Linked DNA regions of Homo sapiens: region 2 is linked to region 1. The links come from fine-mapping of genetic effects on gene expression. A gene starts in region 1. The other region holds a variant in brackets. All regions are shown on one strand. Distances are between the middles of the regions.

Region 1 (15,499 bases):
ACAATAGCGTGAGTGATCTGTGCCTTAAGGACATGCTCCTGCTGCAGATAACTAGCCCAACCCATCCCTTTATTTTGGCCCATCCCTTTGTTTCCCATAAGGAATACTTTTAGGTAATCTATAATCTATAATCTATAGAAACAATGCTCATCCCTGGCTTGCTGTTAACAAATAAGTGGGTAAATCTCTGTTCGGGGCTCTCGGCTCTGAAGGCTGTGAGACCCCTGATTTCTCACCCCACACCTCTATATTTCTGTGTGTCTGTCTTTAATTCCTCTAGCGCTGCTGGGTTAGGGTCTCCCAGACCGAGCTGGTCTCGGCAATTTACTATTTCAATTACAAAACCATTAACCTATGAATATATATGGTATAATTCTAAGACATACGTATATCCTTTTAAAAAGCAAACATAGGCTGGGCGCAATGGCTCACATCTGTAATCCCAGCATTTTGGGAGGCCGAGGTGGGTGGATCACGAGGTCAGGAGTTCAAGACCAGCCTGGCCAAGATAGTGAAACCCCATCTCTACTAAAACTTCAAAAATTAGCCAGGCATGGTGGCAGGCACCTGTAATCCCAACTACTTGGGAGGCTGAAGCAGGAGAATCGTTTGAACCCAGGTGGCAGAGGCTGCAGTGAGCCAAGATTGTGCCACTGCACTCCAGGCTGGGTGACAGTGAGACTCCGTTTCAAAAAAAAAACAAAAGCAAACACAATATTATACTTAGTTTTATAATGGAGAGATAGTATATGTAACGTTTAGTAGCCTGGGCTCTGGAGCCAGAATACCGGGATTTAAAATCCCAGTTTAACAATAGCTATGTAACTGAGCAATTGATTAATTGATACAAAGTATCTCACTTTGTACATCCATAAATGGAGATGACAGCACTTACCTCAAAGGGCTGTTGTGAAAACTAAATTAATATTAGCAAGTGCTTAGTATAGCACATGTCACATGGAAAACAGCGTTAGTACAGGAATCCAGGTGTTTTCACTTAACATCATTGTACAGTGTCATTTCCCTGAATCACTTAAAATGTCTGCAAATATTTTAACAGCTATATTATTTGATTAAAATATGCCACAATCAACAAATTTCTTTTTCTAGCACATTAAATACATACATTTTTATTGGCAGTTCTGATCATTTCCTAAAATTTTTTTTTTTTTTGAAATGGGGTCTCACTGTGTTGCTCAGGCTGGAGTGCAGTGGCATGATCTTGGCTCACTGCAACCTCTGCCTCTTGGGTTCAAGTGATTCTCCTGCCTCAGCCTCCCCAGTAGCTGGGATTACAGGCGTCCACCACCATGCCCAGCTAATTTTTGTATTTTTAGTAGAGACAGGGTTTTACCATGTTGGCCAGGCTGGTCTCAAACTCCTGACCTCAAGCCATCCACCCGCCTCAGCCTCCTGAAGTGTTGGGATTACAGGCGTGAGCCACTGCACCCAGCGATTTCCTAAAGATAAACTTATAGAAACGGAGTTATTGTGTTAAAGGATATAAAAGCACAAAACACCCATCACAAGTTGCTTACAGTTGTTTCTTGGGATTACACTTCCATCAGCAGCTTGGTGGGGTGCTTGCTTTTTAAAAGCTATGACTGGAAGACAACAGCCTCCTCATTTAAAAGCTATTTTGATATACAACATGCTAAAAGGAGGCCTAGTATACACATCTGTTTCAAACTAAAACTTTAATTTATCAAGAATCCCATCTTATTCACTGTGAATCTCACTGTAGGAATAGAGAGGCTCTAAAGGAACATTAATAAATTTGGGATTTTGGCTGAGATCACAAACCTGGACTCAATTCTGTTAACAAAATTTATTCAGTACACAAATATTTACTAAGCCATATCTATATATGTGTATGTGTGTGTGTGTGTATACACACACACACACACACACACACACACACACACATCTCAGGCACAGTTTTGGGTGCCTGGAAAACTTCAGCGAACATGGCCCTACTAAGAGGCAAAGGCTGAGAAAAGATTTATACATGCTGAGAAAAAAACAGAACAATGGTTAGACTGGTTTTGCCATACTTCTTACTTCGCTTCTCATAAACGATATAGCTTTAGAAGCCAAACTCATAAGGATAAGTGTAGTTTAATAATACATATTTCTCCAGATTCTTTGCTATTGTGATGTAAACTGGTTGGAATTTGCACCTTGGCAACAAATCTTTGCTGAAGCACTTGCCAAACCAATTGTGGCAACTGTTATACCAGAGGTCTGCTCCAGCATCTGGAACTGGACACAGACATACTGTGGTCATGTGTTGCTTGCTTTGGTAATTGCTTGGTGGCTAGATTTGGGAGAATACTTAGTGTGAGCCTGGCAATTGATGGTGGATCCCAACAAAGAGGAAATTTTCACCAACCTTTCAGTTTTGACATAAAAGTGCAAATTTATAAACATAAAACTTCTTTTATAGCCTTCAATTTTAGTATTTGATAAGCCCTTGGGAGTTAAGATTATATCCAAGTGCCCTGATTTTTCAATTCTCTGAAGGTGAGAATAAATGGCCATCATCATAATTTGGTTTACTTCTTTAGCAAATCTCTGCAGACTCAAAATCAGTTAAACTTAACTGATAGAAATGGAGTTTAAATATGGCAGTTAAGTGAAGCCAATCTAAGATATATGTGGATCAGCACTATATAAGCTATTACACATCAGTTTCTATTAATACAATGATGGGACTGGAATTTGGAGAGATTCCTGGGACAGTGGAAGCAGCTGTGAGATAGGAATTCAGCAGGACTAGTTTCCAAGACAAGAGAGACAGTAAACAACAGGTCAGAAGACCCCACCGATAAGCGAGGATACAGTAAAGAAACCAGCCAGAACCAAGATGGCAACAAAAGCAACCTTCACCACTATCATACACAAATCATAATGCATGCGCACGCTAAAAACCACCCCCACCAGCACCACGACAGTTTACAAATGCCATGGCAATATCTAGAAGTTACCCCGTATGGTCTGGACTGGGGACTCCTGGTTCCACAGAATCCCTGCCTCTTTTCCAGAAAACTCACGAATAATCCACCCCTTGTTTAACATATACTCAAGAAATGGCCATAAAATAGCCAGTTAGCAGGCCCGCCTGCTTCCCACCCTCCCCACTCCACTCTGCCTATGGGGTAGCCACCCTTTTATTCCCTCATTTTTAATAAACTTGCTTTCACTTTACTCTGTGGCTCATTCTTGAATTCTTTCCTGCATGAAGCCAAAAACCAACTTGGCTTCCAGGGCTGAGCCTCAATTTTGGTATTCACCTGCAACAGCTGTAGAAGATCCTTGAGTGGTCTGCCTGTAAACTCCAGACCTATCAAATTCCATACTCCAATACACCTAAATGCTTCATACAATCCATGGATATTATGAAGTAATAAACAGACTTATACTGATAATCATATTATTAACAGGCTTCTCCTTGGCATCAAATATGGACATGAGGGAAACTGAAGGACTTTTCCAGTTACCATCCTAACATCTGCATCTAACTGTGAAAGGGAATCCACTAGCACTGGCCATACCCTTTCCTTTGGGAATCTATGTTATTTCTTAGGCCCAAAATCTTTTTGGAAGACTTGTGTTTTTGGGAAGACAGAGTTACCCTTTTGAAAAATTGTGCAGACTACACTTTAGAATTCACTTCAAAGGGAAAAATTAGTTTTGCAAGGATGGTACCTAACCTGCAAAATAAAATTTAATAGTCCTGGTGCAAAACACTTCTCCACAGGGAAACATTATTAAACTGAAGCTGATTAACAGTATTATTGCTTCTCAAAATTTAAATGCATCTTAACAAGATTCTTTGTATGCACAATTCTGATTTAGTAGATTTAGGGTGAGGTCTGAGATTTTGCATTTCTAACAAGCTCCAGATGATGCTATTACTGCTAGTCTGGGGATTACCCTGAAGTGCAAGGTGATGGACAGTCATTAGAGAGACCAGGTAGAATTCAGAGGTTAGATACGGGACAGCAAACCGGGCACTGAGACTTCAGAGTCTCCCCAGAGTTTTGTTCTTTAAGATGCAATCCAGTCATCTTTTTTTTCAAATTAAAACGTAGGTTTAATGCAATTCCAACCAATATGCCAAAAGGATTATTTTGGAAACAGACTAAGTTATTTCAAGGTTATTCTAGAATAGGCAACAAGAAAGATGAATGTGGGAAGGGATGAAAGAGAATAGCAAGGGGAGTAAAATTATGTGATTAAGGAGGCATCAAGCATCATTAAGAAAGGAAATAATGGTGGAGAACTAGATATTTGGCAAAATGAACAGACAAAAACACCCAAAACAAAAAAGAAGCTAGGCTGGGTGCAGTGGCTCATGCCTGTAATCCCAGCACTTTGGGAGGCCGGGGCAGGTGGATCATGAGGTCAAGAGATCGAGACCAGCCTGGCCAACATGGTGAAACCCCATTTCTACTAAAAATACAAAAATAAAATTAGCCGGGTGTGGTGGTGTGTGCCTGTAATCCCAGCTACTCGGGCAGCTGAGGCAGCAGTATCGCTTGAATCCAGGAGCCAAGATCGCGCCACTGCACTCCAACCTGGCAACAGAGCAAGACTCCGTGTCAAAAAAAAAAAAAAGAAGCTAATTTAGATCCTTATCTAATAATATGTCTCTTCTCTGAATAAATTCTAGATGAATGAATCTAACACACCAAGAAAAACACAAAATCCCCACAAGAGAGAAGTGAATATTTAACAAACCTATGCCACTCCTCCCAATAAATTCTAGATGAATGAATCTAAAACACCAAGAAAAACACAAAACCCTCAGAAGAGAGAAGTGAATATTTAACAAACCCAGGGGTGAAGATTAAACTTAGAATTGGAAGAAACGAGGGAAAAAAAGTGATAGCTGACACTCTGTGTATGTGTATCCTCTGTATTTAAAAATAACACTAAAGGCCAACGAGGAAAATGTTTATGTTATGTCAAATTAATAGGAAAATAAGTACATCAAACCTAGTGCCTTCAAAAGACAACAGAACAGTGTGTTTAGAACTTCTGGGGTCCAGATCCCACCCCCTTTGCTTTTCCAAGTGAATACCTCTCCCCCGCAGTGGTTTACTCTCATCAACGTACATTCTAGTCTTTCACATTAAAATAAAAATAGCAAGAACCTGAGCCCCTCACCATGTCCTTCGTCAGCTACCAATCCAGTTCTCTATGAGATTGCTCATGATCACAGTAAAACTTCTCCGAAGTCTCCATCTCCACCTCCTCACCTCCCTTTCCTTTTCCACAGTACTTCAATCTGGCATCTCCCCACCACTCCATTCAAATGGCTCTCATCAAAACTCCAGTCTTCATCTCATGCCAGTTCTCAATCAGTGCCCAACACAGCCGCTCATCCCTACAAAACACTTCCTCCTTTGGCTTTCCTCCCTCCAGCCTCACTGGCTATTTTCTTCTTAGTTGCCTTTGTTGGTGTCTCCTGTATCAAAACTCCAAATCTGCACTATGCATAAGGTAGCCCACTAGTCAGGTCACTACAGAGTCCTTGAAACACGGTTAGTCTGTGAGATGTGCTGTAAAATTAAAATATCCATTCGACTTTGAAGATGAAGATTTTTTTGAAGACTTAGTATGTGTTCAAAGCATAGTGTTTTGCATAGACAGGGTTAAACAAAAGATATTAACTTCACCTGTTTCATTTTACGTTACTTTTAAGATGGCTAGAAAAAATGTAAGACTATATCTGTGGCTTGCATTAGATTTCTATTGGCTAGTGCTGTTCTAAATGTTGGCAGTGTCCTAGGGTTTGGTCTTGCTCCTCCTTAGCCTTGCCATCACAGTAAACAGTATCATTATCCATGCACTGGCTCATATTAGAGGCACCGAAAGTAGACAGTAGTATTTTCAGACAATGGGAGTGTCCACAGAGCAGGGTTCCCGGGGTTCCTGGACACTGGATTGCTTTGAGGAACTCAACTCTGCCCATTTATGGTTTTTAGTTTCTCCTCTGGAATGTACCTAAAGGAATTTAAGAAACCTCCATTTGGCTCTGTTGTTTTTCTCTTTTTTAAAGTCCACAGTTTGTAATGGTAAAGACTTAAGCAAGTTCCTGAACTCTTTCAGGCCCTAAAATTCATCATGTTTGAGGAGAATGCAAGCACTGTTTCTCTAAAGACGACTCATCTAACAAATATGCTGCCTCTGATCATGCCAGTTCCATCAATTCAACAGAGGGACTGAAATCTGGCACCAGGAGCTTTGCAACAAAATCTGTGCCACTTGTTAAAAGCGAAAGACTTGATTTCATCCATATCTTAAAAACAACAGGGTTTTAGAAAAGACATACATACAAGTCAAGATTCAATATTTAAACTTAAAACTCATGCAGTATCAAAACTACTAACCATTCTATAAGCACTCCTTTCAAGACGTTGACCATGTTTTCTCAGAAGGTTCAGATGACCTGAAGAATGCTAATAAAAAGAGTAAGGTAACATTAAATTAAAAATCATTAACTTTCATATACTTTGGGGATCTGCCTCTGAAACGAGGCAAAATAATTAAATGTCAATATTTAACAGTTAAGTCTATGAAAGACAGTTAACATTAAGAAAAAAGACATTCTGATTTTTTAACAAAATTAAAATGAGTCTACTTGGAATATTAATGCCACATCTTACTCGCCAGCCAATTCTACCCAAGGTCAATTAGCCCTAATAGAAGCAAGAGGCCTAACTCTACACCAGTGTGCCCAACCCAGGTATAAACCGTCCATTATTCAAAGGATTTCTTTTCCCATTCAGGAGAATGACAAAGGGTAAGATCCTGGGAGACAGGAATCAAAGAAGATAGTTCTGAAAGGTGCTTCAAAAATTATACAGTGAGCCCAACCACCTCCTTTTAGTTTATATTTTATTTTACTGAGACAGGGTCTGGCTCTGCCGCCCAGGCTGTAGTGCAGTGGCGCGATCTCTGCTCCCTGCAACCTCTTGCCTCCTGGGTTCAAGCGATCCTCCCACCTCAGCCTCCCGAGTAGCTGGGACTACAGGCATGCACTACTAAGCCCAGCTAATGTACTGTGTTGTATCGTGTGTGTGTGTGTGTATATATATACACACTTTTATATATAATATATAATATACAATATATAATATATAATATACAATATATTATATATAATATACAATATATTATATAATATATAATATACAATATATTATATAATATATAATATACAATATATTATATAATATATATTATATATTATATAATATACAATATATTATATGTAATATACAATATATGTAATATACAATATATTATATGTAATATACAATATATGTAATATACAATATATTATATATAATATACAATATATTATATATAATATACAGTATATTATATATAATATACTGTATATTATATATAATATACAATATATTATATAATATACAATATATTATATATAATATACAATATAATATATATAATATATAATATATATAATATACAATATATTATATATAATATATAATATACAATATAATATTATATATAATATATAATATACATATTATATATATGTATTATATATAATATACGTATTATATATAATATACATAATATACATATTATATATTATATATAAAATAAATATATATTATATATAAAATACATATATAATATATATATATGTATATATACACTTCGAGACAGAGTCTCACTCTGTCGCCCAGGCTGGAGCGCAGTGTCGTGATGTCGGCTCACTGCAACCTCTGCCTCCCGGGCTCAAGCGATTCTCCTGCCTCAGCCTCCCAAGCAGCGGGGACTACAGGCGCCCGCCACCACGCCAGGCCAAATTTTGTATTTTTAGTAGAGGCAGGGTTTCACCATGTTGGCCAGGCTGGTCTCGAACTCCTGATCTCAAATGATCCACCTACCTCGGCCTCCCAAAGTGCTGGGACAACAGGTGTGAGCCACCGCGCCAGGCCAATTTATTGTATTTTTAGTGGAGACGGGGTTTCACCATGTTGGCCAGGCTGGTCTCGAACTCCTGGCCTCAAGTGATTTGCCCGCCTCGGCCTCCCAATGTGCTGGGATTGCAGGCGTGAGCCACCGCGCCCGGCCTCAGCCACCTCATTTTACATATGAGGAGACCAAAGGAAGAGATTAAGCCGTAGTTCCTGGCCAAAGGAAAAAAGTACAAGCCAGATCTCCAGATCTTGTGCCCCTTCACTAAATAAATCACGTCCCGTGCGGACCTAGGCTGGAAACAAACCACTCAGCGTACGCCCATTTAATTAACTTCCACTTACACCTGGGCGCAGGGCGAGCCCTAGCCCCACAGGAAACCCACGATTAAACGAGGGGGGGACTGCCGTGCGGCCCCGCCAGGAAGGGCCCGGAGAGAGTGGGGGACACCGCCCTGTGCCCCCAGCACCCGGTGGACAGGCTTCTGGGGCTTTTCTCTTCCTCTCCCCTTTCTTTGGGACCCCTCAGTGTTCCCACACCCCACTTTCCCCAGCCGCTCGGACGCTCGCCACACACCTCGGCCCACAGATGCAGAAGCGCCTCGGCGTTGCCGGCAGAGTGCGCCTGCGCCGATACGCCATCGCGCTAGGGACGCTATTGTGGGTGGAGCCAGCCGGCGGGAGGCGGGCCCAGAGCGGGCCGAGGGGGCGGGGTCACGAGCCGCCAGCCGCCGGGTGGAGGGTCCCGGCCGGGAGCCGCGGAAAGAGTAGGGCTCCCCAGACAACGGGGTCCGACGAGCAGTTGGGCACGGGCTGAGTCCGCCTGCCGGCAGGTAGGACGTGAAGGCAGGGGTGGTGTGGGGGCGGACGGGGGCGTCGGCGCAGCTGGGCGCGGTGGGGAGCGGAGAATGGGGAGGGCAGGGACCGGGCACGGCCGAGCACCGCCGTCTGGCGCGCGGACCGGACCGACCAGCTGACGCTCGGCTGGGCGTGAGGGCCTCTCTCTCTGGTGGTCGCGAGCCTGACTCGTCTTTCCCTGTCGCTGCCTTTCTCTGGCTGCTGTCGAGGCCTTGGGGAGTGCACCTGCCGGTCCGTCTTCCCGGGCTCGGTAGTCACGGAGAGATGAGGAGGAGGAGGAAAGGGCCTCACCAGTCACTTCTGAGCCTTGCAGACCACCGCTTCCTGCTCCCTCTCTAACCCCAGAGATGGAATAGATTGAATGCTGAGAGAGCTCTAAACTCGGCAACGGTCATTTTAAAGTGAAAGACCCCAGAAGGTTCTAAAGTTACTCCCTTTCCCCAAGTCTGTTCTGTAAGTCTAAAGGAACACTGTCATTATTTTTACTAGTTGAGATATGAGATTCTTGTTTTCTGTTCCTTAGGTTAAATTGTACTTCCCGCATTAAGCTCATGCTGCCTTTTTTTTTTTTTTTTTTGAGATGGAGTCTCGGTCTGTCTGCCAGGCTGGAGTGCAGTGGCGCGATCTGGGCTCACTGCAACCTCCGTCTCCTGGGTTCAAGCAATTATCCTGCCTCATTCTCCCTAGTAACTGGGATTACAGGCGTGCGCTACCACGCCCGGCTGATTTTCGTATTTTTAGTAGACACGGGGTTTGTCCATGTTGGCCAGGCTGGTCTGGAATTCCTGACATCAGGTGATCCCCCGCCTCGGCCTCCCAGAGTGCTGCGATTACAGGTGTGAGCCACCGCGCCCGACCTCATGCTGCCTTTTTTTTTTTTTTTTTTTTTTTAACATCGTGTGTGTTCATGTGATCGCTAAGGAACCCAGCTCTTCCATTTAGTTCCCTCTTTCTATCCCTCAAATCTTTTCCAACTGGTGATTTCCATATTGTTGCACTCTCTTTAAAATAAAAAAATTGCCTCCAAGTCTTCTTCTTCCCAAGTATCTTTTATTTGCTTTTTTTCATCTTGCATACATTCTCTTCCTTGATCTCATCAGTTCCATTTTTGTGCACTTGATGTGTGTCAGCTATTATTCTAGACGCTTGGGATACAATGGTGAACAGGTAACTAATTTTGGTGGGGGCAGAGAGACTCTGAAATCAGTTAAGGAATAAGTACCATTTGGTGATGTGATAAAGAGTGACTAGAGGGGTTATTTTGGCCAGGGGGATGTCAGAAATGGCCTTAATTTCTGCATTTAAAAACTTCTGTATACCAGTAACAATTAACTAGGAGTTTTAATAATAAAAAGACACTATTCATAATGGCATTCAAAACTAAAGGTACCTAGAAATAGATGAACCTAAAGCTGTGTAGTCCTTTAGACAGAAAATTGTAAGGCTCTGTTGGAACACAAAAGATGACCCAAGTAAATGGTGAGATATACCGTATTAATAGATGGAAAGACTCAACAAAAAGATGTCAGTTTTCCTCAGTTCTACGAATTCAGTGTAATGCCAATTAAAATCACCATATTGTTTTATGGAATTTGCCATGCTGAACTTAAAATTTATATGGAAAGGCAAGGGACCAAGAATAGTGAAGTCAATTTTGAAGAAGAAGAAAAATAAGGTCTCTCCCTATCAGATACCAAAGCTTAATATAAAGTTGTAATTATTAAGATGGTATGATATTGATTCAGGGATAGAGAATTAGATTCATGGAACAGAATAGAGACACTAGAAACATACCTATTTACATACGGGAGTTTAGTATACCACTAAGTGGTATTGCAAAGCAGGGGGAAAGCATAGACTATTCAATAAAGGATGATGAAATATATGGTTGCTGAGATATCTGGCATTGTTATGGTATACAGACAGGATTAGATTCTTACTTTCAAACTATTGACAACAGTTTCCAGATAAAGACCTAAATGTGAATGGCACAGCTGCAAGGTATTTGGAAAGGAATATAAGAGACCATTGTCTCTAGGAAAGATTTCTTTTTTGTTTGCTTTGTTAAATCTTGTTACACATAAGATTTATCATGTTAACCATGTTGAGTTGTTGAGTTCAGTGACATTCACATTGTGCAACCAGCACTACTATCTATCTCCAGAACTTTTTTTTTAAATGTCTCTGAGAAGGATTTCTTAAGTTACAAAAAGCACCTTTGAGGTGTCATTTTATTACTCCAAATGAGAGATGATGTTGGCTTGAACTAGACAAGAGTGTAGCAGTGAATACAGAGAAAAATGGATGGATTTGGGGGTATGTTTTGATGGTAGAGAAGAGCAACTCTGCGTGGTTTAGATGTAGAGTAAGGGGAAAACAAGGAATCAAGGGCAACATCTGTTTTTTTGCTTCAGTTAAGAGGTAGATCATTTACCATTTACAATCAAAAAGCATTGACCATTTGATGGATAGTGATGGAGAAGATTTGTGGAGGAAGAGTTTGGGGAGAAAAAGTAAAGAATTCTCTTTTGGACAGTTGAGTATGAAAGGCCTGTTGGACATCCAAGTGGAAATGTTCCAATAGCTGTTGGATAGATAGGTCAGGAAAGATCGTAGCTAGAGGTACTCTGAGATCACTGGCATATAGATATTAAGAACTGGGCCGGGCACGGTGGCTCACGCTTGTAATCCCAGCACTTTGGTAGGCCGAGGCGGGTGGATCACGAGGTCAGGAGATTGAGACCATCCTGGATAACACGGTGAAACCCCGTCTGTACTAAAAATACAAAAAAATAGCTGGGCGTGGTGGCAGCCGCCTGTAGTCCCAGCTACTTGGGAGGCTGAGGCAGGAGAATGGTGTGAACCTGGGAGACGGAGTTTGCAGTGAGCCGAGATCGCGCCACTGCACTCCAGCCTGGGTGACAGAGTGAGAGACTCTGTCTCAAAAAAAAAACCAAAAAACAAAAAACTGTGGTGTGTTGGAATCAGCTGTGTTACACAGAAAACAAGATAATACTGGCTTAAATATGTATGTAATTGCATAGGTAGGCAGCCATGCTTTTATGGAAGCAGCTCTGTAATCATCAGGGACTCGGATTCTTCTATCTGGCTGCTCTACCGTCCTTAATAAGATGCTTGGTGTTAAGATGACTGCTTTAATTCAAACTGTCAGTTGCTCATTCTAGCAAGAGGGAGGAGGGAAGGAGGAAGAAAGGCACATACCCTTCTTTTTAAGGACACTTTTCAGAAATTGCACATGACACATCCACTCATATTTCATTAGCCAATTCTTTGTAAGTGCCCATAGTTAACTAGAAAGAAAGAAAGGTGATGTAGTCTTTTTTGTTGTCTGTGTACCTAGCTACAACTCACGTTTTATTAATCAGAATGAAAGCATGAAATGATGTTTCACTCTGGCTTCCTCCACCAGGGCAATGAAGCTACTGATATGAAGATCCCAGTGACCTCCATATTGTTAAACTTAATGGAATTTTCAAATATTTGTTTTATTTTTAAATTATAATCTCTTCCCTTTTATTTTCTGTGTCTTTCTTAGTCTCAAAATTTCTCCGTTCTCTACTTAAAATCAGTGTTTCAGATTTTATGTAATCACCGTCATAATATATATATATATTTTTTTGAGATGGAGTCTCGCTCTGTCGCCCAGGCTGGACTGCCGTGGCGCAATCTTTGCTCACTGCAAGCTGCACCTCCTAGTTTCACGCCATTCTCCTGCCTCAGCCTCCTGAGTAGCTGGGACTACAGGTGCCCGCCACCACACCCAGCTAATTTTTTGAATTTTTAGTAGAGATGGGGTTTCACCGGGTTATCCAGGCTGGTCTCGATCTCCTGACCTCGTGATCCTCCTGCCTCGGCCTCCCAAAGTGCTGGGATTACAGGCGTGAGCCACCGTGCCTGGCCCCATAATCTTAAAGGTGCTTTTAAATAGAAATTGACAAGCAGACTCTAAAATTATGTGGAAGTACCAAGGACCTAGAATAGTCCGTCTTGAAAAGGAAGGACACAGCTGGAAAATTTATACTACTAGCTTCAAGACTTACTTTAAAAACTACAGTAATCTGCCTGGTGCGGTGGCTCACACCTGTAATCCCAGCACTTTGGGAAGCCGAGGCGGGTGGATCACGAGGTCAAGAGTTCAAGACCAGCCTGGCCAAGATGGTGAAACCCTGTCTCTACCCAAAATACAAAAATTAGCCAGGTATGGTGGTGGGCATCTGTAATCCCAGCTACTTGGGAGGCTGAGGCAGGAGAATTGCTTGAACCTGGGAGGCGGAGGTTGCAGTGAGCTGAGATCAGGCCACTGCACTCCATCCTGCCTGGGCGACAGAGTGAGACTCTGTCAAAAAGAAAACAAAAAACAACAAAAAACCTACATAATCTAAACAGTGCAGTGTTTATATAAGGATAGATAAATAGATCGATGGAGTGGAATAGGTCCATACATATGTATTCCATTAGGGTTTTTTGTTTGTTTGTTTTGAGATGTGGGTCTCACTGTATTGCCTAGGCTGGTGTTGGGCTCCTGAGCTCCAGCAGTCCTCCTGCCTCAGGCTTCTGAGTAGCTGGTATTACAGGCATGTGCCGCAGATATAGTCAGTTGATTTGTGGTCTCAAGCAATCATCCCACCTTGGCCTCCCAAATCACTGGGATTATAGGCATGAGCCACCACACTTGGCCCTATGGTATACTTTTTATTGTTATTTTATAGTGTATTCATCTATTCCCTCTACTTATAAAAAAATAAAATTTACTGTAAAACAAGTTATGCTGGCAGCAACCTCATATATCTCGTGTAAAGGAAAGTTTAGAAGTTACATGTCAGCTTTTTGAGGCATTATAAACCATCCCAAAGGCTACGGGCTAAAACAAACATTTATTATTGCTTGCAGGCTAAGGACTGAATATGGATTTGTAGGGTCACCTAGGGGCTGGCTAGTTTGATGTGGCTTCACATGCCTGGCGGCTGTTGCTGGCTGTCAGTTGGTACTTGTTGGCTTCATTAATGGGGATATTGGACATTTCTCTTGTGATCCAGCAGACTAACCTAGGCATCTTTACATGGTGCTGGTCACAGGTTTCTCAAGAGCAAAAAGACAGGAGCCTCGATGTGCACGTACTTCCCAAGTCTCAGCTTGCATCATGCTTCTATTGTCCTATGGCCAAAGTTACTCGTAAGATCAATCTAAAGTCACCGTGGGAGGGGACTACCAAAGATCATGGTTATAGGAAAAGGAATAATTTGTGGCCATTAAAAAAAATCTGCATTTAAGACAAAAACTATGTGTAAAAAAAGCAGGCAAGTATGAAAGTGAGCCAACTGGAAGTTTTAGAAATAAAAGTTTTTGAAATACTCAGTGGATGGATCGAATGATAGTCTAAATACAACTAAACAGAAGGTGATGAATTGGAAGATAGATTTGGGGAAATTATAGTGCATGTCAGACAGATAGAAAAAAATGGAAGAAGTTGAGATTTGAAGGTTAGACTTTAAAAATCTAGCATACATCTAATAGGAGTATCAGAAGGTAAAAGTTGAATGGGGGTCAAAGTGGTAATTGTTAAGAATATTGCAGAATTGAAGAAAAATGTGAGTTCTAAGATCAAAGGAGCATACCAAATCTTGAGTGGGGTATATAAAAACAAACCCATACCCAGACATAAAGTAGAGAATTGTAAGAACATCAAAAAGATCTTAAAACTGCCAGATGGAATATAATATTGATAGTAATGATAAGTAGCATTTATTGAACACTTAATTTGGAATAGGCACTATTCTGTGTGTTTTACATATATTAACTCATGTGATATTTGTAACAACCCTTTACAGTAGTTCCCTTATTATCACCATTTTATAGATGAGGAAAGTGAGACACAGAGGTTAAATAGCCCATTATCATATGTCTAGTGTTTTCAAATGTACCTGGATTTTGTTTTAATCAGGAATGGTAAGAAGACAGACACAGAGACAACTGCCTTGAAAGAAGAGCTTATTATGTACAGTTCCCAAGGAAGAGTGGGCGTGCCACACCATGCAAGGCCACATGGGGAAGTACCAGGGTCATTCAGGAGGCATAAGGAGCAATGTGAAAGCATGGGCCAGAGCTTTCTTTTATTGTGTTTTTTTGTGGGAAGGAATGAACGTTTTTTTTGTGGGAAGGAATGAGCGAGACAGGGTAGACGAGCTGAACAAACTTAGGATTGGATAGTTCGAATAATTTGGCAGACCAGAGAGGTGGTCTCTAGCTGCCTAGTACCTGGCTCTGAGGAGATTTAGAGTAAGGGAAGCATTGGCTGTGTGTGGTGGTTGGGGGTATGCACCTGGGATTGGTTGGTTTGCATATGAGAAGCATGCTCACAGGCAGGTTGTTTGCTACCTCTAGCAGTTAGCTATCCCAGAGAGGGGCAGTCACTCCCTGGGTCCTTAAGGTCCTAAGATGTCAAAGCATTCTTAAAAAAAAAAAAAAAATTACTAATACAAGTTGTTTGTGGAATTGGATTTGAAACCAGGCAGTGTGGTCCTACAGAGCACATTCTTAAACTTCTTTGCTATTATTTTGCCTACAAAGAAACAACAGTTAGACTTAGATTTCTCCTGAGCAACAAGAAATATCAGTGAAAATACCATTAATGTACCAAAGGAAACCTACTGTTATTC
Region 2 (15,499 bases), 92 kb after region 1:
TTCAGCTGCCTGAGTAGCTGGGATTACAGGCATGTGCACCACCATGCCCTGCTAATTTTTAAAAAATATTTTTAGTAGAGACAGGGTTTCACCATGTTGGCCAGGCTGGTCTTGAACTCCTGACCTCAAGCGATCCACCTGTCTCGGCCTCCCAAAGTGCTGGGATTACAGGTGTGAGCCACTGCGCCTGGCTGAATCAGAAGAGTTTTGTTGGGGGCGGGAAATAATCACAAATATAAAACCAGTTCAGAACCGTGGCCATTTGAATATCCAGAGGAAACAAGAATTATCTTGAATCTGGTGTGTTATGGGGGTACAAGTTATTGTAAAAAAATAAACTAACTAGAGGAAATCAGGGTGTTGGAGCTGGCTACCTCCACAGGGCTCAGTCCCTACCCCTCGCTTGGCCTGCCTGGTTGAGGTCTCTCCTGGGACCTGCATACTTGATATCACACAGTGCCCAATCGCCAAGAGAAAAAGGAAAGTCTGTCCTGAGCTGACTCCATCGCTGAGGCTCCTGAGAAAAGAAGGGTCAGGCTACCTTTGTACGTTGGATGCTGCTTCTTTTTGGTGAGAGCAGGTGACTTGCTGGGAGGAGCCAGTGCTGTGGGGCCGGGGACATCAGAGAGGTCGTCTCCCCCGAGTTCACTGTCCGAGACTCCAGGCTGATTGAATTCATCCACCAAGTAGTCTTCATCGTCTTCAAGAATATCCCCTGGGAGAAGGAAATGAATCACAATTCGGGTGAAAACAATGAGGGGGAAAGGCTCAGTCTTCCATCAGTGGGACTGGTTCAGCTCCTGTCAGGACACGTGCACCCTGCCCTGCAGCTCAGGGCCCAGGCGCCAGCAGGGACGGTACCCCAGTTCCATTGGTACACCCACAGCCCTGATATCCTCATAGCCACTGTTTGTAGCCTAAGTTTAGATGCCTCGGGTCCCAGGTAGCATGGCATGCATCGTCCACACATACAAACATGCTCATCACATGGGACAGAGGGCTTGCCCTGCGGGTGTCCTCCGTCACTTCTGCAAGGGAGGCTTTAGAAGGTGTCCTTAAAAGCTCAGGCCTGTTGCTAGAAGAACGGCTTGCCTGTCCCTCCCTGCAGGGTCACTAACCTTCTGACTCATAGTCCAAACTTGTGAAGTCAAAGTTTTCCTCCAGCAAACAGGAGTTGGCAGTGGGAGACACGGGGGCCATGCTGTCTCGTTTCCGAATGATCTCCTCTCGCAAACCTTTCAGCCAGTCCTTGGTCTTCGGTCTAATCTTCACTGCTCTGCCTTTCACCTGGGAGGGCAGAGCGGCCACCCAGGAATAAATAAAAATCATGACCCCTCCTGTTGATCACACAATGCTTCTCACCAAAACCCACACACCCTCAACGAGGCCAATCTTCACATTTGGCCCTGAAAAACCAAGGGTCCAGACCTCACGCAGGCTCAGCATAGCTCTCATACATCTGGTTGAAAAAAAAGTTGAACTGGGCTGGGTGCGGTGGCTCACACCTGTAATCCCAGCACTCTGAGAGGCCGAAGCAGGTAGATCCCTTGAGGTCAGGAGTTTGAGACCAGCCTGACCAACACGGTGAAACCCGATCTGTACTAAAAATACAAAAATTAGCTGGGCGTGGTGGTGAGTGCCTGTAGTCCCAGCTACTCGGGAGGCTGAGGCAGGAGAATCGCTTGAACCCGGGAGGCGGAAGCTGCGGTGAGCCGAGATTGCACCACTGCACTCTAGCCTGGGTGACAGAGCAAGACTCCATCTCAAAAAAAAAAAGTTGAACTCTCATCTCCAGCTTCCCATTTGGTACAGATTTAAAGCCAAGATACTATAAAAACGGAAACTATCTATGAGCTGCATATTCCAAAATACATACTCTAAAGAGAAAGACTGGAATAGTCTCCCACATGGCAGTGCGAGCATAGACAGATCAAGTAACTCGGCGAGAACTACACTCTAAAATGGCTAAGCTTCTGCAGCTGCTGGTAGAGCTGCCTTCCAACGTGAGACACAGTGACTGACATTCTTCTTCCCCATTCTGTTTGTTTGGTTTTTTGAGACAGGGTCTCGCTGTCACCCAGGCTGGAGTGCAGTGGCACGATCTCAGCTCACTGTAACCTCTGCCTCCCAGGTTCAAGCGATTCTCCTGCCTCAGCCTCCTGAGTAGCTGGGACTAGAGGCACGCGCCACCATGTCTGGCTACTTTTTTTTTTTTTTTTTTTTTTTTTGGAGACAGAGTCTCACACTGTTGCCTGGGCTGGAGTGCAATGGTGCGATCTCGGCTCACTGCAACCTCTGCCTCCTGGGTTCAAGTGATTCTCCTGCCTCAGCCTCCCAAGTAGCTGGGATTACAGGCACCTGCCACTATGCCTGGCTAATTTTTGTATTTTTAGTGGAGACGGGGTTTCACTATGTTGGCCAGGCTGGTCTCGAAATCCTGACCTCATGATTTGCCCGCCTCAGCCTCCCAAAGTGCTGAGATTACAGGCGTAAGCCACCACACCCAGCGCCTGGCTAATTTTTGTATTTTTACTAGAGACAGGATTTCGCCATGTTGGCCAGGCTGGTCTCGATCTCCTGACCTTGGGTGATCTACCCACCTTGGCCTGACAAAGTGCTGGGATTACAAGCATAAGCCACTGCGCCCACCCTTCCGCCCTATTTTGCAAGTAGCTAGAGCCGGACATGAGACACCTTAGAACCAGAGTGAAGAATCCAAACTCCCTCCCGCATATGGCGTCTATACATAAAGACAGATTGGTGGCCAGGCATGAAAGCTCATGCCTGTAATCTCAACACATTGGGAGATCGAGGCGGGAGGATGACTGGAGCCCAGGAGGCTGAGGTTATAGTGAGCCATAACTGTCCCAATGCACTCCAGCCGGGGCTACAGAGTGAGATCCTCTCTCTACAAAATTTAAAAAAAATTAGCTGGGTGTGGTGGCACGTGCCTGCGGTCCCAGCTACTTGAGAGGCTGAGATGGGAGGATTGCTTAAGCCTGGCAGTTCAAGGCTGCAGCGAGCTGTGATTGCATCACTGTACTCCAGCCTGAATGACAGAGCAAGACTTTGTCTCAGAGAAAAAAAAAAAAAAAAAAAAAAAAAAAAAAGGCACAGGTCAGGGCAAGAGGAGGAAGAAGACATGCCCACATAAAAAGAGGGATTGATCAGACCCCACTCCACAGTGTGGCCAAGTACAGCGTACCTTCATACCGTCCACGTCCAGGACACTGAGAGCCGAGTGACTGTCTGCAAAAGTTACCAGCATCTGCCCTTGGTTGATCCTGGAATAAATGATACTCCAAGTCAATGCCAAGAACGACCTGGCAGCTCTCACGGATCCTCATCGACATCCCCTGGAACCCACATCAGCCAGGGGAGCAGTTACCTGACAAGAACAATTGTCCCATAACTCCCCAAGGTCTGCATGAGCTCAGTACGCAGGTCCTCTGGAAACTCGTTTTTCTCTTCTAAGGTCGGTGATTGAAGGTTTACTACAACAGTGGCATCCAGGGGGCCCTGGAAGGAGGACACTTCCTGGAAAACCCTCTCCCGAGCACCCACATCGACTTCCTGAACTTCCACCTCCACGATCGCCAGCACAGGTCTGCGTTAGGAACAAAAGAGGGATGACAGTTAGCCTGGGACAGATGTCCACACCCCCGGCCTCCAGTCCCCAGTTAGCCTGGGACAGATGTCCACATCTCCAGCCCCCAGTCCCCAGCTGCTGTCCCCCAGGGCTCTTTGTAAACAGTCAACACCAACAACCTGCGAATGTGGCCACCAGCAGGTGGATTTGCAGGCTAGCTGCCCTGCTCTGGCGTTTTAGTCTTCATCTTTCCTTAACCTTAGTATCACCTTGGCATTTTTATCTAAAGATGATTTGAGGGGGAAAATAAAGTGT[G/A]GCACCTTAAAGATGTATCCCAGTACTTGGAAAATAACCAGCCATCAGCAAAGATTTTTGACATGGTAATCCTCAGTACCACCAAGGAGGTGGGGAAGCAGACATCTGCACTCTGCCAGGGGTGCAAGCTTTTCAGAGGGTTACTTGGCACTTTACATAGAGTTCCAAAATTGTTCATCTCTTTTCACCTAGTAATCTCACTTCTCGGACTTTATTCTAAGGAAATGACCAGGGATTCAGACAAAGATTTAATGCATGAGGTTGATCATTTACAGCATTGTTGATGGGAGGGAAAAAAAAAAAGGGAAATGCTCGTTTTTTTTTTTTTTTTTATTTTGAGTCAGAGTCTCCCTCTGTTGTCCAGGCTGGAGTGCAGTGGCGCGATCTCAGCCCACTGCAACCTCCGCCTCCCGGGCTCAAGTGATTCTCCTGCCTCAGCTTCCCAAGTAGCTGGGATTACAGGCGCATGCCACCATGACCAGCTAATTTTTGTATTTTTGGTAGAGATGGGGTTTTGCTGTGTTGGCTAGGCTGGTCTTGAACTCCTGACTTTAGGTGATCCGCCTGCCTCAGCCTCCCAAAGTGCTGGGATAAAGGCGTGAGCCACTGCGCCAGGCCAAAATGCTCTGTTTCTTAATGGGGAAACAGTTATGATACCTTCATATAATACCCTACGCAATCATTAGGAATAATGTAAAAATCAATGATGTAAACAGGAAAACAGTCCAGCAGGAAATAATGCAATCCTTATAGTAATTCTGACACAGGGATGGTTATTACTCTATAAATTTCCAGAAAATCCTATATTACGAAAATTACACAGCCTGATTGAAAATAGCTCGACTCTGGCCTGACTCCTGCCACTACTTTTTTTCTTTCATAGCACACATGTTTGTTTATTGTCTGTTTGTCCTGTCCAGAAAATTCCATGATAACATGGTCTCATCTGTTTTGTTCACTGCTTTTCTCCAGGCCAGCAACAGGGCCTGGCATGTAAGGGCCCCTCAAGAAATATTGGTTAAATTAAGGTTTCAAAATACATTGAGCTAGCAAACCTTGATGTCACATATCTGAAGATTCCTCAAGATTCACTTCTAGGTATGTATTTGCAACAACAGGTATCTAAAGAATTTAGAATTATCTAAAGAGTCTGGGCATGGTGGCTGTAATCCCAGTACTTTGGGAGGCTGAGGCGGGCACATCACTGGAGGCCAGGAGTTGGAGACCAGCCTGGCTAACATGGCAAAACCGTTTCTACTAAAAATACAAAAATCAGCCGGGCATGGTGATGCACGCCTGTAATCCCAGCTACTTGGGAGGCTGAGACATGAAAATCACTTATACCCTGGGGGTGGAGGTTGCAATGAGCCAAGATTGTGCCACTGCACTCCAGCCTGGAGGACTCTGTCTCAAAAAAAAAAAAAAAAGGTTTTTTCGTTGACCAACTGTTCTTACCTTCTTTTTCTTAATTTCTTTCCTTGTAAAAGTTGAAACTGACATGAGAGTTTAGGCAGCAGCCTTGGGAAGATCAAACTCTTCCTTCTTCACACCCTCAAATGCCATCCTCTCCTCTGTCTTTAAAGACATTCTGCAGGGTGAGTCTTCCTCTGCAGCAATCCCAGGGCACAGGTGCTGGTGCCCACGGTGCTCCCTCTGCTGCCTCCACTCTATCCTCAATGCATGATGCACAGAGCATTTAAAAAGCCCTGCATCCTAGGGCCAGGTGCGGTGGCTCACGCCTGTAATCCCAACACTTTGAGAGGCCAAGGTGGGTGGATCACCTGAGGTCAGGAGTTTGGGACCAGCCTGGCCAACATGGTGAAACCCCGTCTCTACTAAAAACACAAAAATTAGCCAGGCATGGTGGTGTGCACCTGTAATCCCAGCTACTTGGGAGGCTGAGGCAGGAGAATTGCTTGAATCTGGGAAGCGGAGGTTGCAGTGAGCTGAGATCACACCACTGTACTCCATCCAGCCTGGGCAATAGAGCAAGACTCTCTCTCAAAAAAAAAAAAAAAAAAAAGGTTGTGCATCCCAGATTTAAAAACCCTATGGTGTTTGTAATCATAAAATCCTGGAGAAAATATTCATCAAGAGGTGAATGGATAAGTTGTAAGTTCCATGGATATATTTAGTGGGATACTAGACAGCAGTTACAAATGAATGCACCAGAGCTATAACATCAACACGACTGTATCTCAAAAATAGTAACAAAAAAGCAAGTTGCACAACGACATCATTTAAGAAAATATAAAAGCCGCAAAATACGTAGGTTGCATCTTTGAAATTTTCATCAATGATGTCATTTATGATATGGAGCAATGACAAAATGCTAAGATTAATTAGTTCTTGGTGGTGGGTCCACAGATATTTGTTCCATCATTCTTTGTTCTTTGGTGTATTGTATGCACACAAAATGCACCCCCATGCGCACACACATCCTTATGGGGACAGCATGCATTTTCCTGCGGAGAGGGAGACGCTGCCTTGCCCAGCACAGGAGAAAACGCCATGGAAGTCAGGACCTCACCTGTGATCAGACGCTTGTAGCTCCGCACGACCATAATACTGCAGGGCACCAGGAGACCAGGTGTGTCTGACTTTGGTGTCAACATCTAGATCACTGTCTAGAAGGTTGAGTTCTCCAGCTACTCGCAGGGGTTCCATTCGAGAGACCCATATAGAATCGAGTCAATATCCAAGAATGCGATCATGACACTTCCACAATAGAGGTCTGCGCCACGAACCACCCCACGTCCCAGACTCATCCTCCTTACTCCTCCACCTTGAAGCCAGGCTTCGGATGCTTTGGGGCCTTTGGTTAAAAACATTCCTCGCATATAATTATTCAAAACAGTCATGACCATGCCTGCAGTCCTCGCCAGCATGCCCACTGTAGGCTTGAGACACAGTGTTGCTGCCGGGTTTCCAGGACCCAGGAATCCCAGAAGGTTGGCAGCAATTGGTATGGTAAGAGCTGCAGGAGCTGAGAACACTCGGACTCATTCTAGGCCCCACCTCTCAGAGCGCTGGGGCCACACAGGCGTTCACAAACTCATCTAGAGGAAAATTTGTATTTTCTTTTCACAGATGCAATTTCCTGGCTATGCTCTCCCAAAATGTGTAATTAGGTTTTTTTTTTTTTTTTTTTTTTTTTTTTTATGTACTAGTTACAGATATTCTAACTTTAAATAAACTTCACTTCCTAGCTGGGCATCAACAGTTGTTCAAAACATACTTGACAACTAATGATTTTTAAAAACTAACTTATTTTTACTGTGTCTTGCTCGTGTCCAATTTGGAATTAGGGCTTTAAGCAGGTAAAAGTGTAGCTGAACAAAATAGGCTGGATAAAGAACATGAGGGGGAGCATGGGGGGCAGGGAGGGAGGCAACCTCATGCTCCCCGCTTTCCCCACCCAGAAAAAAGAGGTGGGGGTGTGGGGGGGAGCTGTGATGCAGGGGCAGCCAGGAGCAGACCTATTTGCAGGTCACTGTCTCTAGAAAGAGACCAGAGGAGGCCAGGCGCAGTGGCTTATGCCTGTAATCCCAGCACTTTGGGAGGCCGAGGTGGGCAGATCACCTGAGGTTGGGAGTTCAAGACCAGCCTGACCAACATGGAGAAACCCCGTCTCTACTAAAAATACAAAATTAGCTGGGCATGGTGGTGCATGCCTGTAATCCCAGCACTCAGGAGGCTGAGGCAGGAGAATGGCTTGAACCCAGGAGGTGGAGGTTGTGGTGAGCCAAGATCACGCCATTGCACTCCAGCCTAGGCAACAAGAGTGAAACTCTGTCTCAAAAAAAAAAAAGAAAAGAAAAGGGAAAAAAAGAGGCCAGAAGCAGAGGCTCCCTGAAAGCACAACTTCCAAAGCTTAGGGGTTAAGGTCTGGGATGACTTTTGTGTCATCTGGGGTTATGAAGAAACTGATTTATGTAGCAGCGCCTGGGGTTGGGTAAACGTGACTCTCCCTCCGTCGCATTTCTTATTCACCCTCTGCCGACTCTCGAACGGGCACGGCCCCCTCACCTGTTTTATCAAAGGGATGTTTCTTCCTCCACCACAGCACCCTGTCTGTCCAGGCGGGGGTGCGGCATTTGTCGCTTGTATCGTAGGCGGCTGAGCCAACGTCATACTTGTAGGTGGGTCCAAAGTTAATGGCTCCTTCGTGAAAGTCCTTAAAAATCTATTGGGAGAAAAAGAAGTCATCAGGCCACCGTAGTTTTCGATCCTGAATGTTATATACAAAAACGAAAACTGAAAAGGCAAGTCCCTATTCTTAAAAAGTAACAGAAGCTCCATTACATTTGAAAATCTATCTGAAACTGGACATATGTGTCTTTTAATTAGCAAAAAAGTGATCCTCAGCTCATCCCACTGAGGGACACACCGCCCTCGTATCTATCTCCCCACCCACTCCAGTGTCTGATCTATCCACTGTCTTCTTGTTGCCCCCCAGGAGACAGTGCAGGGTCCGAGGCACGGGTCAGGGGTGCTCATCTTTACAGTCCCATGCCTGGTGCCATGTCTGGCCCACAACCCCGAGGCCTTCATCTATGTTTGTTGACTAAATGAGCTAAGTACATAGAAGCGCAGAGTGAAAGTCAGCTCTCCTCTCTCTCTCCCCCTGGGGTCTCGCTCTTTTGCTCAGGCTGGAATACAGTGGTGCAATCACGGCTCCCTACAGCTTCAACCTCTGGGGCTCATGTGATCCTCCTGCCTCAGCCTCCCAAGTAGCTGGGACTACAGGCACGCACCATCATGCCTGGCTAATTTTAGTTTTTGTAGAGACAAAGTCTCCCTATGTTTCCCAGGCTGGTCTCAAACTCCTGGGCTTAGGCAATCCTCCCGCCTTACAGTCGTGAGCCCCCATGCACATCCTTCTTTTCTTTGTTTAACTTTGGATTGGCCTTGCTTCCATGGGAAGACCAAGGGACAAACACACCCTCATTCTCTTGGGCATCACTGAGAGGATGTGAGAATGTTGGTAGTAGGAAGACAGGAAAACCTGCTTTAGGAGGTTGGTATGGTCACTCGTCCATGTGGCAACCCTTTAGCACTCCACACACTGGAAGGGGCTCAAGTGGGAAGACACAGTAAACCTCGAAGAACGTCCAAATCTTGCTTCAGGAGAGACCTTATCTGCCCTGTCCTCACACTTTTTTTTTTTTTGAGACGGAGTTTTGCTCGTTGCCCAAGCTGGAGTGCAGTGGTGCGATCTCGGCTCACTGCAACTTCCGCCTCCCAGGTTCAAGCGATTCTCCTGCCTCAGTCTCCTGAGTAGCTGGGATTACAGGCGCCTGCCACCATACCCAGGTAATTTTTGGATTTTTAGTAGAGATGGGGTTTCACCAAGTTGGCCAGGCTGGTCTTGAACTCCTGACCTCAGGTGATCCGCACGCCTCGGCCTCCCAAAGTGTTGGGATTACAGGCAAGAGCCACCGCACCTGGCCCTCACACATTTAACCAGCTTCTTTCTCCACAGCTAAATGGAATTTAAATGTACTCCCCTCATCTCAGCTCATCCTGCTAGGAAGCAAACAGGCACTAAAATAACAGTATTAGAAGGAGGAGAAGGTTGACCGGGCATGGTGGCTCATGCCTGTAATCCCAGCACTTTGGGAGGCTGAGGCGCACAGATCACCTGAGGCCAGGAGTTCGAGACCAGCCTGGCCAACATGGTGAAAACCCGTCTCTACTAAAAATACAAAAATTAGCCAGGTGTGGCGGCACACGCCTGTAATCGCAGCTACTCGGGAGGCTGAGGCACAAGAATTGCTTGAACCCAGGAAGGTGGAGGTTGCAGTGAGCCAAGATAGTGCCACTGCACTCCAACCTGGGTGACTGAACAAGACTCTGCCTCAGGAAAAAAAAAAAAAAAAAAAAAAGGACAGGAAGTGTGTATGAACAGCCACTCCTGTACTGTAACCTCACAAGCCCACCTATTTTCTACAATGTTGGAAACAGTGAAATCCACTCACGGAACTGAATTTGCTGCACCAGCCTCTACATCTCACAGATGTCATTCCATCTTGGAGCAGCTGCTAAAAAATGTTTTTAAAGCACAACTTACTTTTCCACTTGATTTCTGTAGCTGTAGTTGATCAAATTCCAGAAGTTTCTTCCAGTCTTGGCGTTTAACAAAATAGAAGACTTCTTCATAAGTAAGATCAATGCGGTAGTTGAAATCGCCACACCAAAATACATAATCATGAGAAAAAACATTTCTCCCCTAAGTTGAAAAGAAAATCATAATCATTCAGCCCATCTTGCAAGGAAGGTGGGAGAGAGGAGAAAAACAAGCTCACTGGGGCAAGCAGGAGTATTTTTCTCAAAATGCTACTTAGAAAAAAGAAAGTTTTCTACTAGAGCATCTTGTTTTTCACTCATCCCATAAAACTATGGAGGAATTTTTACATGGCTTACTTTTTAATTTTAAATAATAGTGTTTCTGAGTGGTTTGAAGAAAGCTCCTACCCTAAACGGAGGAGAGCAACATGGCCAGCATTTCCTCCATGGATCCCCGTCCTGAAGATCAGATGCACCCTTACTTTGGAGTGTCTACTCCTAGGAAGCAGCACCCAGCATTCAGCGTTAGGAGAATGAGGTTTCAAAAGAGCAGCAGAAATGCTCAGGATGTGCACCTTCATGTAACTTCCTGAGCTTTTTCAGGTGACCCTTCTCCATCTCTCTCTAGCTCCTCCTTCCCATCCTGCCCAGTCCTAGGAGCCCACGGCCCCAGCTCAGCCCCGGAGAGCTCCTGGGGTCCTTGCCTTCCCTGTCTCTTCCCCAGGAATGGGGAAGACAATGACAGCAGCTGCTGTGGATCAACTGTCCGCAAGGGCTGGGCTCTGTTCCAGGTGCACAAAGCAGATACCACCAGCTCTCTCTTAGATTAAAAAAAAAAAAACAAAGTTCAGAAACAAAGGCACTTGCTGAAGGTTACACAGCTAGTGCATGATACAGATGGGATTTCAGCTCCCATCTGCCTAGCTCCAAAATCAGCTTCTCTTCTCCTATAATATGAGGCATTTCCACTCCCCCCATGACAATAATCTGGACAGAAGATTAAACAGGTCCCAACCAAATAAAATGAGCGTCTAGATAACACTGTCAGACAGAACTTTCTGCAGCACCGAAATGTTCTCTGTGCCATCTGATGCAGGAGCCACTGGCCACATGGATACTGATCATTCTCACTGTGGCCAGGGAAAGCAAGGAATTTTAAATGTTATTTAATTTTAATTAATTTGAATTTAAATAGCTACTTATGGCCAGTGACTACGGTATCAGACAATACCAGTGTAGAATGTTGGCCAGGCACCATGGCTCACACCTGTAATCCCAGCACTTTGGGAGGCTGAGGCAGGCGGATCACTTGATGTCAGGAGTTCGAGACCAGCTGGGCCAACATGGCGAAACCCCATCTCTACTAAAAATACAAAAACTAGTTGGGCCTGGTGGTGCACGCCTGTAATCCCAATTACTCAGGAGGCTGAGCCAGGAGAATTGCTTGAACCTGGGAGGTGGAGTTTGCAGTGAGCCAAGATCATGTCACTGCACTCCAGCCTGGGTGGCAGAGTGAGACTGTCTCAAAAAACAAAAACAAAAAAGAAGTGTAGAATGTTAATAGGTCCCTCAATATTTTTATGGTAGAAAAGAACTACATTATAAATCCTTTAATTACTTATTATGTATCCCAAGTTTACTATGTCAAAGTAGCACTTTTTTTTTTTTTTTTTTAGACAGAGTCTCGCTCTGTTGCCGAGGCTGGAGTGTAGTGGTGCGATCTCAGCTCACTGCAACCTCTGCCTCCTGGGTTGCGATTCTCCTGTCTCAGCCTCCTGAGTAGCTGGGATTACAGGTGCACGCCACCACGCCTGGCTAATTTTTTTTGTATTTTCAGTAGAGGTGGGGTTTCACCACGTTGGCCAGGCTGGTCTCGAACTCCTGACCTCAGGTGATCTGCCCGCCTCGGCCTCCCAAAGTGCTGGGATTACAGGTGTGAGCCACTGTGCCTGGCCCCAAAGTAGCTATTTTTAAGTGAGAAGGGTTAGACTTTTTTTTTTTTTTTAAACTGCATTACACACAATTGAAAATTTCCCAACTCGTTTGTTTCTTTTTTAACATAAGAAATAAACAACACCAACAGGAATTATGGCACTTCTTAATGAAAACTAAGGAAATTTTGCCTTGAGTGCTCGTGCAGCCCAGTAAAATGGGACGTCAGTTTTAAGGATCTGTTCTCACAGGGAAGAGCTCTGTGACCCAACCCACCACCTCTCAGACAGTGGAAGATTTTGCAGCAAGAACAGCTGAAGTCTATCCTCACTTCGGGAAAGAGGTGGCCTCGTGTGCACCACACGCTGAAGCTGTGCCCGGGTAGCATCTTTGCACAGGAAGGAGAACATTAACGTCTAGATTTGAAAAGAAAATCCTCCAGTTTCAGAATGAAACCCTCCGGACCGCCACGAGAGGGCAGTGTGCGGTTCGCTATTGCAGCTTCGAGGACAGGCAGGATCTGGGCTCCTTGGTCAAGAACCGTGTTCCCAGTCAAAAAGGGTCCATTGGTCAAAAGGGTGTGCTTATCTGAGCCACCACAGAAAGTACATGTGAAGACTGTGAATCTCAGGAAGGTGGAGTCTTAGGCTGTGTGGATTCAAATGCTCTTCACCACTTGGACAGGACAGACCACGGACATGGTTTTCTTCCCTAAACCATCACTTGAATTAGAAAATCAGAAAATGCACACATACAAATCCAGTGGCCATGCAGACACTCAGGAATTGTACAGCAACGGGAAATGCTGCAAAGCTGGCCCCCTCCAGGCACGTGGCTAACCCTGCCCCAGGTCAATTCCATGGAGGGACATAGCCCTCTCCCCCTCCCCCAGCGCTGAGCCCTCCAGGAAGGGGCCCTCCCTGTGGTTGTGTCCCCAGTGCCTGGCTCCTATCAACAGTCACATTTGGGACTGAGCTGAGCAGGGAGGTGCTGGCTGTCCCCACGGCGCCGCTCACCATTGGGAAGCAGAGTTTCTGGGTGATCTCCTTGTAGTCTTCATTCCGCTCCTTCACCTGGGACTGCCCGGCCGTCAGGTGACTACATATGAAGCAGAAGCTGGTGCTGTGGAACTGGAAGCGGATGCCGACGGCGCCCTTGTTCCCCGCCTTGCCCCCCATGCCCGTCTTCACTGTGTCGATGGCTACGTCCCTGGAACAGAAGGATACGCGCATGCCGTCGGCTCCTGAAGGAGAAGTGTGACCCTGCTTTGCCACAGAGAAGGGCCCAGCAGCAGCTCGGGACCTGCTGCTCTGAGTGCTCCAAAATCATCAGCTCAACACAGTGGCCACCGTGGCCGTCATCGACTCCTGGTCAGGAGGCCGCCTCCCTCCTGCTGCCCACCGCTGCCTGGACATCTCCCCCACACCCCAACTGGGAAGTGCTCACTTGAGCACCCCATGAAGCCGAAGACAGGGCAATGCCTGCATCCGCCCAGGTTCTCACTGCCACCAGGAGCGGCGCAAACATCACCACCCACCAGCCCACCCCACTCCTGTGCAGCCATCACGCCATGCATGGGAGGTGTCATCTGGGCAATCAACACATTTTTAAATTATTATTGTTATTTTGAGACAGAGTCTCGCTCTGTCACCCTGGCTGGAGTGCAGCAGCGTGATCTCAGCTCACTGCAACTGTGGCCTCCCAGGTTCAAGCAATTCTCCTGCCTCAGCCTCCTGAGTAGCTGGGATTACAGGTACCCACCATCACGCCCGGCTAATTTTTGTATTTTTAGTAGAGGCAGGGTTTCACCATGTTGGCCAGGCTGGTCTCAAACTCCTCACCTCAAGTGATCTGCCTGCCTTGGCCTCCCAAAGTGCTGGGATTACAGGCGTGAGACACCGTGCCCAGCAATCAATGCACTTTAAGAGCTAGGAAACGGGCAGCTGTTTATGCTGGGCTGGGTAGATGGTCTCAAAAGGACTTTTATGCAATGCCAGAGCCTGCTTGCATTCAAATGCCCACTTATGACGCATACGAGTCCATAGAAACATGGGCTGCAAGCACATTTGTTAACATTTCCACAGCCATGCCACAGACTGAGGCCTGCTGGTGCATCTGCTCGCTGGCAGACAAGGTTGGGGGGATGACTGATGGAAGGGGTGTAGGCGGAAGCAGCTCAGGGCTAAAGGCACGTGAAGCCGAGGACACCGAGCCTGGGAAACCTGGCTCTCCTCAGCTCTGAGCCCTTTCTCAAATGCTTTACCTCTCACCCTCACCCCGCCCTTGCCTTTAACCTTTACTAACCTTCACCTGCTAACCTAGGACACTGCCAAGCTGCCCAAATAACACAAGCAGAGGGACAGGGACCTAAACATCTTCTGAAAGTCAGAGAAGAGGATTATGGGCAGCATAGTCTTAGTCTCCAGGTGCTGCAGGGGTGTACCCGTGGTGCTCTTGGCAGGCACAGGCCCTTCCCGGGACCCAGGGGCTCAGTGGGGAGGTCAGTTCAACGCCTGCTGCCAGCTCGCCGAAAGGCTGGTGGAAATTCAAAAGCCATGGGTAGGCCCAGGTGGTAAGATGAGGCCAACCACAAGCTGGGGAAAAGATGAGTTCCTCCAGCATCCAAACACCCACACCCACACCCCAAGAGGAATGCCGCCCCTAAGCTCGCCCCCTTTCTGATGCTCACAAAGCATGCACCTTGGAGAAATGACAATGAGGTCACAGTTGTAGAGGCCCACACGTTCTACTTAGAATTCTTTTAAAAAGGGACAAAAGAGTTGGCATTTCCCAGTGAGTTACTCAGCTCTTGGTCAGAGGTTTCCTGTCTATAAGATTCCAACAAGGAACCCTTTTCCTTGCACGGAATTGAGCTTGGGCGATGACAATCATGTAACACCCTTTCTAAGAGTTCAGCTTCCTGAGTTAGACATTTCCCATGGTGGCTTTTTAATCGCTAGACAATATTCTATTCAGCCCAGTTTTTCCTAGGGGGTTTTGCTACATTTATCTAAAATAATGGTAAGTCCCGATTCCTGTTACAGAAGGGGATGGGGGAGGAGGGGGAAGTCAAAGAACAAAACACAAAGACTAACAACCCCTTGTTCCCCAGATGTGTGTAAACAGAATGTTCTTACCTGATGAACGGGACATGGTATGGACGTACAAAGATATAAAGACAGACGCCCACCAGCTGTGCCGAAGTCAACAGAATGTATCTATGAGAGCGTGAGATGGCTTTCTGAAGCTGTTCACCCCACATCTTCTTGTTGGTAGTACTGGAAGAGAAAAGGAAAGGATGCTGTTTACAGGTAGCTGGAAGTACATCTATCTCCCACCTACCAAATGCTCCAGCCCAAGCCTATTCTGTTTGCAGAACTGATTTCACGCTGCCCGCACCCCAATATTAGTGTCATGCTTTCCTTCTTCTACTGGAGGATCTGCGTGTTTTTGGCTATGCCTCACACATCACAGCAGCCCTCCCTTGACCCCTGAAACCCAACCCAGGACCTTCTCATAGCAGCCCCACAGAGTCAGTCTTATTTATTTGTTCAGAAAGTTCCTTAAAATAAAGCCAGGCCAGTTCAGCAGGGG

The links. PIP is the estimated chance that this variant, and not a neighbour inherited with it, causes the effect. A credible set is the group of variants that fine-mapping cannot tell apart.
Region 2: its variant is the best candidate, but not a certain one, in a credible set for the expression of SERAC1 in whole blood (GTEx, PIP 0.84).

The regions. Positions count from the first base shown.
Region 1 is chr6:158,161,438-158,176,936 of GRCh38, reverse strand. It overlaps SERAC1 (serine active site containing 1), which reads left to right and starts at 8,675. Exons shown (of 17, transcript NM_032861.4): 1 at 8,675-8,797. It overlaps GTF2H5 (general transcription factor IIH subunit 5), which reads right to left and starts at 8,587. Exons shown (of 3, transcript NM_207118.3): 1 at 8,542-8,587; 2 at 6,399-6,467. The coding sequence starts at 6,433. RefSeq lists silencers at 8,588-8,767, 8,808-8,877.
Region 2 is chr6:158,069,217-158,084,715 of GRCh38, reverse strand. SYNJ2 (synaptojanin 2) reads right to left here. Exons shown (of 27, transcript NM_003898.4): 14 at 15,043-15,183; 15 at 12,922-13,114; 16 at 9,978-10,136; 17 at 7,934-8,090; 18 at 6,435-6,552; 19 at 3,389-3,607; 20 at 3,206-3,284; 21 at 1,119-1,287; 22 at 542-715. Among named protein-coding and RNA genes, the nearest start is that of SYNJ2-IT1, 76 kb to the right of the region's middle. RefSeq lists enhancers at 12,426-12,987, 12,988-13,551, 14,535-15,499. The variant G/A (reference allele first, on the strand shown) is at 3,905.